3 linked regions of the Homo sapiens genome follow. The protein of the gene in region 3 purifies or fractionates together with the protein of the main gene of each other region. This does not show direct contact. Each region holds a gene or a part of one and is shown on either strand. Other genes may lie near its edges.

Region 1 (3,654 bases), on a different chromosome or scaffold from region 3:
ATCCCAGCACTTTGGAAGGCCGAGATGGGCGGATCACCTGAGGCCAGGAGTTCGAGACTAGCCTGGCCAACATGGTTGAAACCCCGTCTCTACTAAAAATACAAAAAAATTAGCTGGGCCGGGTGCGGTAGCTCATGCCTGTAATCCCAGCACTTTGGGAGGTCGAGGCGGGCGGATCACATGAGGTCAGGGGTTCGAGACCAGCCTGACCAATATGATGAAACCCCATCTCTACTAAAAATAGAAAAATTAGCCGGGTGTGGTGGCGGGCACCTGTAATCCCAGCTATTTGGGAGGCTGAGGCAGGAGAGAATTGCTTGAAGCTGGGAGGCGGAGGTTGCAGTGAGCCGAGATCGCACCCTCGCACTCCTGCCTGGTTAATAAGAGTGAGACTCCATCTCAAAAAAAAAAAAAAAAAAAAGGCCAGGTACAGTGGCTCATGCCTGTAATCCCAGCACTTTGGGAGGCCTAGGTGGGCAGATCACGAGGTCAGGAGTTTGAGACCAGTCTGGCCAACATAGTGAAACCCCGTCTCTACTAAAAATACAAGAAGTTAGCCGGGTGTGGTGATGTGCACCTGCAATCCCAGCTACTTGGGAGGCTGAGGCAGGAGAATCACATGAACCCGGGAGATGGAGGTTGTAGTGAGCCGAGATTGTTCCACTGCACTCCAGCCTGGGTGACAGTGCGAGACTCTGTCTCAAAAACAAACAAACAAAAAAATCAGCTGGGCATGGTGGTGGGTGCCTGTAATCCCAGCTACTCGGGAGGCTGAGGCATGAGAATCGCTTAAACGTGGTAGGCAGAGGTTGCAGTGAGCCGAGATTGCGCCATTGCACTCCAGCCTGGGCAACAGAGCGAGACTCCATCTCAAAAACAAAACTAAAAACAAAAAACAAAAAGGGACACAGCTTGAATCACTGTGTGAGGAGCAGGCCCATGCACTGAGCTGGGAAAGAACAGGTTTGCATTGGGCATTGGGGCACTGAAACTGGAAGATGAGTTCTTATAGGGGGTGTGAAGTTTTACTTGAGTTGCAATTATTATGAGTTTATTTTTTTCTCTGATTATAAAAGTAGTATGTTTCTGGAAGACATTTTGGCTTTGGATATCAAGAGCTTTAAAGTTAAGCAACCTCTTTGACTGGGCAATCTCTCCTATAATTGGTCCTTAGGATAATTAAATATGTATGTAGAGATGTTCATCATTTTTTTTTTCTTTTTTTGAGATGGGCTCACTCTGTTACCCAAGCTAGAGGGCAGTGGCATGATCATGGCACACTGCAGCCTTGACCTCCTGGGCTGAAGGAGCTGATCCTCCTGCCTCAGCCTTCCAAGTACCTGGGACTACAGATGTGCACTACTACACCTGGCTAACTTTTTATTTTTTGTAGAGACGAGGCCTTGCTGTGTTCCCCAGGCTGGTCTCAAACTCCTGAGCTTAAGTTATCTCCCAAAGTGCTGGGATTATAGGCGTGAGCTGCCACACCAGGTCCACCACATTTTTTAAAGGGAGAAAAGCCCACCTATGTGAGGTTCTTTGAGTTGGTGCTGTGCCGTGTTTGAGATATGATAAGGAAGATACAGACACAGAGTTGGCCAAAGCCCTGACACCCACCCAGTCACAGCCACACCAGAAGCCCAAGTCCCAGAGAGGCAGACAGGCAGCTCTATGAACCCACATCCCCTACACTGCTCCTCTTGGGTGCTCTGCTCCTGCGTGGGAGTTCTCCTTGGCTAGGTCCTGCACTAGTCTAGGGTGTCAGTTCCCGGCTAGGCAGAGGGCACCTCCATCTCTGCCTAGAAGGCCTGGCACTCATCACAGTGTGGGGGTGGCCAGGGCGTGCTTCTGTGGCAGCCACACCCCTGACAGCCATCTGTCTAGACCTCCTTTTTGCAAAGGCATCACAGGTGAAACCTGCTACATTGGGGTGATGGGCACCTTTCTGCCAAGCTGCCCTCCAAAGCTGGACTCTATGCCCACCCTCAACATCCTTGACAGTCTTGCCAACCTTCTGCCCAACATTATCTCTTGTCCGTCCTCTCAAGGGCCTCTGTACTCAGGCCATAATTGACCACTCCCTGAATACCCACTGCAGCTCCTACTTCTGCTCATCTGTCCAGACAGCTGCATTTGTCTGGAACAGAACACATGCCCTTCTCCTTGTTCATCTTCTCAGCCCAGCTCAAGAGACCCCCTTCTGGCCAGGCACGGTGGCACACACCTGTAATTCCAGCACTTTGGGAGGCCGAGGCAGGCGGATCACTTGAGGTCAGGAGTTTGAGACCAGCCTGGCCAACATGGTCAAACCCTGTCTCTACTAAAAATACAAAAAATTAGCTGGGCATGGTGGCTCATGCGTATAGTCCCAGCTACTCTGGAGGCTGAGGCAGGAGAATCGCTTGAACCCAGGAGGTGGAGGTTGCAGTGAGCTGAGATCACACCACTGTACTCCAGCCTGGATGACAGAGTAAGACTCCGTCTCAGAAAAAAAAAAAAAAAAAAAATTAATAAAATAAAAAAGAGACCCCCTTCCTGGCCAGCTCCTCTGGCAGAGGCAATGCCCACACTCTTAGTACAGACCCCTAGTGCAGCATCCATCACTGGCTTTGGTCTCTGACCCCACTGTTGTACCAGGAGGGTAGAGTCCAGGTTGACGTGTCCCTGCAAGGGGCTTAGATGGGTATCAGTGAGTGCTTATTGATTGAAGCATCAATCAATGCCTGATGGGCATCAGAGACCTTTCCTTGGATCGGTACTAGGCCTCTGGAGCAGCTTGGAAACCTGGGCTTTTGGGGAAATGTTTGGGAGGCTGCCTGAGGGTGGAGGGATGGCAAGGGAAGAGCTGGGAGTGGGGAGAAAGCAAGTTTGTGTGTTCAGACAGCTGGGACAGACGGAGGACTGGGGCACTGAGGCTGGGGATTTCCATGTCACGTTCACTCACTAAACCGGGAGTTCTCAACCTTGGCAGTCACCTGGGAGCCACACTGTGGGCCACAGGAATAGGAGTCTCTGGGAATGAGGCCAAGGTATCTTTTTTTTTTTTTTTTTTTTTTTTTGAGACGGAGTTTCGCTCTTGTTGCCCAGGCTGGAGTGCAATGGCGCGATCTTGGCTCACCACAACCTCCGCTTCCCAGGTTCAAGCGATTCGCCTGGCTCAGCCTTCCTGAGTAGCTGGGATTACAGGCATGTGCTACCATGCCTGGCTAATTTTGTGTTTTTAGTAGAGACAGGGTTTCTCCATGTTGTTCAGGCTGGTCCCGAACTCCCGACCTCAGGTGATTCCCCCCGCCTTGGCCTCCCAAAGTGCTGGGATTACAGGCATGAGCCACCGCGTCTGGCCTGGGTATCCTCATTTTTTAAAGCTTCTGAGGTGATTCCAATGTGAGCGCCACGGCATTCAGCTTTTGCTAAGCTGCATTCAAAACTATTTCATGGTTATTGAGAACATGGGATCTGTCCTCAGACCGTCCAGACTCAAATTGCAGCCTCCTCTTAGTGTGTGGCTCTGGACAAGTGACCTAACCCTTGTAAACTTCAGTTTCTGAATCTGAAATGGGGATGACAGCAGTACTGAAATCACAGGGTTGTTTCTGGGATGAAATGTGGTAGTTACCTGTAAAGGACTTAGTACAGGGCACATGACAGTGATCA
Region 2 (3,654 bases), on a different chromosome or scaffold from region 3:
GACAAATATAACTTTCTCGAATTTCAAGACTAGGAGAGTTAATTTCGACGTTTATTCCAAAGAAATCATAAACATCAGTTCTGTGGCACAGTTGAGCCACTTTCAGAAGGATATAACTCACCATCCTCCCTGTGTATTCACTATAGATCTTGGGGGTTAGCAGCGGGGCCATTTACTGTTGTGCAGGCCTGTGGGATTCCAGCCGGAGAAGAGTCAGGCTTCCCACACCAGCAAGTTATACAAATAATTAACATTCAGCAAGTGCCCACTCTGCACTAGGCACATCTCCAAGCACTTTACACTGATTTTCTCATTTATCACAACAGTCCATCAAGATATCTTATTATTATTCCCATTTTACTGGTGTGGGAGCAGAGACACAAAAACACGAAGTCACTTGGCCAAAGTGACTTTCAGTGAGTGGAGGAGTCAGTACTCAGACGCAGGCAAGATCATCCAAAATTCGCCTCTTCTTTTTTTAGAGAAAGGATCTTGCTTTGTCACCCAGGCTGCAGTGTGGTGACTCAATCATGGCTCACACAAACCTTGAACCCCTGGGCTCAAACGACCCTACCACCTCAGCCACCCCAAGTAGGTAGGACTACAGGTGCACACTTCCATGCCTAGCCTATTTTTGTATTCTTTATAGAGACAGGGTCTCATCATATTGCCCAAGCTGGTCTCCAACTCCTGGATTCAAGGACTCTTCCCACCTCAGCCTCCTACAGTGTTGAGATTACAGGCACAAGTCACTGCACCCAGCCCAAAACCTGCCTCTTGACCACCAGTCTGTTCCATGTATTTCTAATATGAGCAACAGCTCTTAGTCATGCATTCCCACCATCCACCCACCCAAAAGGAGAGCAGCCAATCTGGGGTCCCAAGTTTAATGGAGGAAGAGAATTTACCCAGAATAGTTTGTTCATATTCACACAGTGGTTTTAAAAACAAAAAAATTGATTCTGCTCCAGAATATTCTAGGTGCATTTTCTGACCTTCTTTTTCTATTGCAGATTAAGAAATGGGGCCAGGGGAGGGAAGGGGGGTGTGATTTCTTTTCAGGTTATTTTTTAATATTTATTTTTAAACAAATTCCATTATTTGGAGGCTTCTGGTGTTTAGACTTCAAATCTACTAATCTTAGTCCATAATTCACTCATGGGACAGTCCCTAAACATTTTTCCAGAGACAGTTCTGAGACAGGGTTTGTTTAAAACTCTGTGACAAGGTGAGAAAAGATCTATAAGTCAGAGAAACAAGACTCCATCATCTCTACAAAAAAATTTTTTAAATTATTAGGTGCGCGTGGTGGCACATGCCAATAGTGCCAGCTACTCAGGAGGCTTGAGGTGGGAGGACTGCTTGAGTCCAGGAGTTTAAGGCTGCAGAGAGCTATGATTGAGCCACTGCCCTCCAGCCTGGGTTACAGTGAGACACTGTCTCTAAAAAATAACAAAATTTGGGGTCAAGTGTGGTGGTTCACACCTGTAATCCCAGCAGGAGGATCGCTTGAGGCCAGAAGTTTGAGACCAGCCTAAGCAGTATAGCAAGACCCAGTCTCTACAAAAAAAAAAAAAAAAATGGAAAAGGAAAAATAAATTAGCCAGGCCTGGTGATGCATACTCATAGTCCCAGTTACTCAGGAGGCTGAGGCAGGAGGATCACTTGAGCCCAGGAGCTGGAGGCTGCAGTGAGCTATGATTGCACCACTGCACTCCAGCCTGAGTAGCAGAGTGAGACCTTGTCTCAAAAAATACCATTTTTTAATTTAAAATTTAAAAATTTTAAAAATTAAAAGTCCAGACAACTGCAGGGCTTTGGGCGATCCCTTTTCTTTCAGAGCCATTTCCTCCTCAGTGATATGGAACTATGCATCCTCAGGCAGTATGCAGGTGGCACAGGGCTGTGTGTCTGTAAGCACTTAATAAAACAAGTTCAAATGTAGGACACGAGCTCTCCTCTCTGCCCCCTCCTCTTCTCTAGGACACGGAAGTTTCCAATCAGATCACCCTCGTGGAAGACGTCTTAGCCAAGCTCTGTAAAACCATTTACCCGCTGGCCGACCTCCTGGCCAGGCCACTCCCGGAGGGGGTCGATCCTCTGAAGCTTGAGATCTATCTCACCGACGAAGACTTCGAGGTAAGCGGTTCTTCCGGTGGGGTGGGGATGGGAGTAAAACAACACACGCACGCCCGGCTCCTTTCACTGAGCCGCGGGGCGCTTCTCCCAATGTTTCCAGTTTGCACTAGACATGACGAGGGATGAATACAACGCCCTGCCCGCCTGGAAGCAGGTGAACCTGAAGAAAGCAAAAGGCCTGTTCTGAGTGGGGAGACGCCAGAGGAGCCTCACGGTCACGTCCAACAACACCACTGCACCAGGGAAATGGATATATATTTTTGGACTGGTGTTTTTCACAAAGTATTTTTCAATCAGAGTTTTCAGAACCTGACATTGTTAAAGATACTGCTTGTCCCGGAGTTGTGTATTTTGTAAATGTTCAAGGGAACTGTTTGGAAACTTCTTTCCACCATTCAGGAGGTTATCAGAATTAATAAAAGTATCTGTTATGTGCACTTAAGCCGCAGCTGCTATAGATAGCACTGCCTTCTTGTTCCAGCTAGGCAATGCCTTTTTTTTTTTTTTTTGAAGCAGTTCTCTTTATAAAGTGTTATTTTGATAGTTTGTGGATTCTAAAATATATATATATTTATATAAACACCATATAAGTCAAATATGTATTTAACAAAGCAATATGTATTCATTCACTTTCAAGATTTGTTTTGGTGTCAAAATAACATGAAAAGGTAGATGGAGTTGCTTCTGTTGAATTAGCTCTGCCACCAATATGTATCTTCATACACGTTTGGAAATGTTTCCTGCAGCATTAGGTATGACTTGTTCTGAGTACTGCTTCCGGTGCTAAAATGAACAAAGAATTTGTACTTAATGGCATGGACTCTGGAGAATCTATGCGAATCAACCTTTCTACCTTAATATCTCCCCAAAAATGTATAGTGCCTTGTTTTTATGTACAGTTTATATACAGAAAAGTTTGCTCTGCATTTTTGATGATGGTTTGGAACATTATCTACAATTTTACTCTCAAATAGTCAAAATAAAAACATCTCAATTTCTAATACCGGTTGTAAACAGTACACATGTCATTTTGTGATATAGGACTCCCAAATAAAAGTATCAGAATAAACACAACAATTAACTGGTTCACATTGAATTCCAAGCATGTTCCTTTCTGGAATTTTTTTTTTTTTTGGTAAATATTAACATAGCACCAAATTTTGTAATTAAGTATAAATGACTATACATTTGAATTTAGTTTAGGGCAAGATTTTATACAAGGTCATAAGATTAAATACAGAGTTATTTGCCCCATAAAATTAGTACTCAGTACTATAATGAAGACATACTTTTGCAAATCATCATTCAGCAGAAGTTCTTTATCCCACAGCTATATCTATCTACAATTTCAATTTTAGGATCTCAATGCCCTTTAAAAAATTGTATGGGCCAGGCGAGGTGGCCCACACCTGTAATCCCGGCACTCTGGGAGGCTGAGGCAGGCGGATCACCTGAGACCAGGAGTTCAACAGCAGCCTGGCCAACATGTTGAAACCCAGTCTCTACTAAAAATAC
Region 3 (3,094 bases):
GGTGGTGTGCATTGTAGTCCCAGCTACTCAGGAAAAGCATTTGAGCCCAAGAGGTCTAGGCTTCAGTGAGCTATGATCATGCTGCCACTGTACTCCAACCTGGACAACAGGGCGGGACCCTGTCTTAAAAAAAAGTGGGAAGAGAGGTATGGGGGTGCCTCACACCGATGTTAGGAAACACAGGGCTAGATTTTTTTTTTGGAGACAGGGTCTCACTCTGTTGCCCAGGCTGGAGTGCAGTGGCACAATCATGACTCACTTGCAGCCTCGATCTCCTGGGCTCAAGTGATCCTCCTGCCTCAGCTTCCAGGGTAGCCGGAATCACAGGCCAGTGCTACCACACCTGGCTATTTTTTTTTTTTTTTTTTTTGAGACGGAGTCTTGCTCTGTCTCCCAGGCTGGAGTGTAGTGGCCCGATCTCGGCTCACTGCAAGCTCCGCCTCCCGGGTTCCCGCCATTCTCCTGCCTGAGCCTCCCGAGTAACTGGGACTACAGGCTCCCGCCAACACGCCCGGCTAATTTTTTTTTTCTGTATTTTTAGTAGAGATGGGGTTTCACTGTGTTAGCCAGGATGGTCTTGATCTCCTGACCTCGTGATCCACCCGCCTCGGCCTCCCAAAGTGCTGGGATTACAGGCGTGAGCCACCGCGCCCGGCCCAACTGGCTATTTTTTAAAAAGTATTATTTTTAGTAGAGACATAGACTCTCTATGTGGCCCAGGCTGGTCTCCGACTCCTGAGCTCAGGCAATCCTCCTGCCCCAGCCTCCCAAAGTGTTGGGATTATAGGCATGAACCAATACACCAACCCTCCCACTTTTTTTAAGGTTGGCAGTTTCTTGGAGTCCCTGCATGAGGGTATTTGCACTTTCACAATCAGGTCAACAGACAGGGTGGCAGGTAAGGATTCAAGGGCTTCTGGAAGACTCTCCACTGCCCACAAGCTGGGGACCTCTCCCCACTAGATCTAGATGAAGTCCAAGAAGTGGTCCACATTTGCCAGCCCTTTCTTGGGTTCTTACAGGCATGTGGTGTGCCTTCCAACAGACTTCATCTTTCTAAGTAAGATGAGAATCCCCACTTACTGGAACCCTACTGAGCGAGCTTTGGAGTGTTAGTTAAATTTAGTATTTGGAAGCCGGGCGTGGTGACTAACACCTGTAATCCCAGCACTTTGGGAGGCTGAGGCAGGCAGATCACGAGGTCAGGAGATCAAGACCATCCTGGCCAACATGGTGAAACCCTGTCTCTACTAAAAATACAAAAATTAGCCAGGCATGGCAGCGCATGCCTGCAGTCCCAGCTACTCAGGAGGCTGAGGCAGAAGAATTGCTTCAACCCAGGAGGCAGAGACTGCAGTGAGCCAAGATGGAGCTACTGCACTCCAGCCTGGGCGACAGAGCAAGACTCTGCCTCAAAAAAAAAAAAAAAAGATTGGGCATGGTGGCTCACACCTGTAATCCCAGCACTTTGGGAGGCCGAGGTGGGTGGATCACGAGGTCAGGAGATCGAGACCATCCTGGCTAACACGGTGAAACCCCATCTCTACTAAAAAAATACAAAAAAATTAGCCGGGCATGGTGATGGGTGCCTGTAGTCCCAGCTACTTGGGAGGCTGAGGCAGGAGAATGGCAGGAACCCGGGAGGCGGAACTTGCAGTGAGCAGAGATCGCACCACTGCACTCCAGCCTGGGCAACAGAATGAGACTCCATCTAAAAAAAAAAAAAAAAAAAAAAAAAAAAATTAGTATTTGGAAACAAAAATTAGCCCCACAATTAGAATTTACCAAGGAGATAATTCAGTAGCTTATGGAAGACTGGCTGCTACTCACATCTTGGCTACAGAGCAAAGAACCTACCTGGAATATGTGAGCAAGGATTTTGGCCATTTTGGGAAAGGGTATTTGATTATCAGAGTTTCATCGAGGATGGTGGATCTGCTCCTGTTTCCAGCAGCTGCCGTTCTGGCTTTTTAATTATAAGTTACTGTTAGTTTGGTTTCATCATTATTAATTTAGTTTGTTGCATGTTTGGTTTACCCTGCAGTATGTAAGGATGCATGTTTGCCACAACAGTGTTCTGGCCTATAATTTTCCCTGGAACTGGGAAACATGCACTCTTTAAAACCTGTTTTTGTTTTTGTTTTTCCTTTGGTTTTGTTTGTTTTCCCTAGGGGAAAGTGGAGGAGGATGGCCCCAAGTGCCTGCCTTTGCTTGAATGATTGTGGCCTGGTTTAGAAGAGTGGTCTTTTAAGTGTGGGGACAGAAAGAAAATATTATAACTTGTATTTATTTTTTTTTGGTGCATACTGTTTAATTTTCTATGCTTCATAACGTACACAGAAGTGGGTTTTCAAAATTTTGTGCTATCAAAATGTTAGGAGATAAGGCCGGGTGTGGTGGCTCACACCTGTAATCCCAGCACTTTGGGAGGCCAAGGCAGGAGGCTTGCTTGAGCCCAGGGGTTTGAGACCAGCTGGGGCAAATGGTAAGACCCTGTCTCTATAAAAAAAAATTTAAAAAATTAGCCAGGTGTGGTGCTGCCCACCTGTGGTCCCAGCTACTTGGGAGGCAGAGGCAGGAGGATTGCTTGAGCTTGGGAGGTCCAGGCTACATGAGCTGTAATCACACCACTGCACTTCAGCCTGGGCCACAGAGAGAGACCCTGTCTCCAAAAAAAAAAAAAAAAAAGGAGACAACTGACAACTGAATGATTCAGAACCAGACCTTGGGGTGGAGACAGAGTAGACTGTGGGAGGGACTGTCTGAGGCAGTGAGTACTATTTCTGGTGCAGCCACTAACTTGCTGTGTGTCCTTGGCTGCACAAATCACTCCTGGGCTTAAGTTTTTCATATGAAAACTGAAGATGCTTCTGGTAGCTCTCAGGACCTTCCAATTCTGTTGTCTGTAGCGGGGCTTGTATGATTCTCATGGAGGACACCAGGTAGGACCTCAAGCTGAGAGGGGTGGAAAGGCAAGGGAGTGTCACAGCAAGCTGAAGGGGTCCCAAGCCTTCAGGATTTTCCTCAGGACCTTGCTCTCTTGTCCCCAGGTGCGCCAAGTTGCTGCTGGAAGCAGGAGCGACGGTGAACCTGG

Evidence for each region.
Region 1: the proteins of ASB16 (region 3) and AHCY purify together in Homo sapiens (affinity purification with mass spectrometry, with the first as the bait; one large-scale study listed by BioGRID). This does not show direct contact.
Region 2: the proteins of ASB16 (region 3) and SVIL purify together in Homo sapiens (affinity purification with mass spectrometry, with the first as the bait; one large-scale study listed by BioGRID). This does not show direct contact.

Annotation. Positions count from the first base shown.
Region 1 is NC_000020.11:34,286,240-34,289,893, reverse strand, and holds part of AHCY (adenosylhomocysteinase), read left to right. Parts: intron 1-3,654. UniProt on the Homo sapiens protein: Catalyzes the hydrolysis of S-adenosyl-L-homocysteine to form adenosine and homocysteine. Binds copper ions.
Region 2 is NC_000010.11:29,456,919-29,460,572, reverse strand, and holds the end of SVIL (supervillin), read left to right. Parts: intron 1-1,983; coding exon 1,984-2,139; exon of another isoform or gene 2,140-2,239; coding exon 2,240-2,326; 3' UTR 2,327-3,235; downstream 3,236-3,654.
Region 3 is NC_000017.11:44,173,688-44,176,781, forward strand, and holds part of ASB16 (ankyrin repeat and SOCS box protein 16), read left to right. Parts: intron 1-2,285; exon of another isoform or gene 2,286-3,050; coding exon 3,051-3,094. UniProt on the Homo sapiens protein: May be a substrate-recognition component of a SCF-like ECS (Elongin-Cullin-SOCS-box protein) E3 ubiquitin-protein ligase complex which mediates the ubiquitination and subsequent proteasomal degradation of target proteins.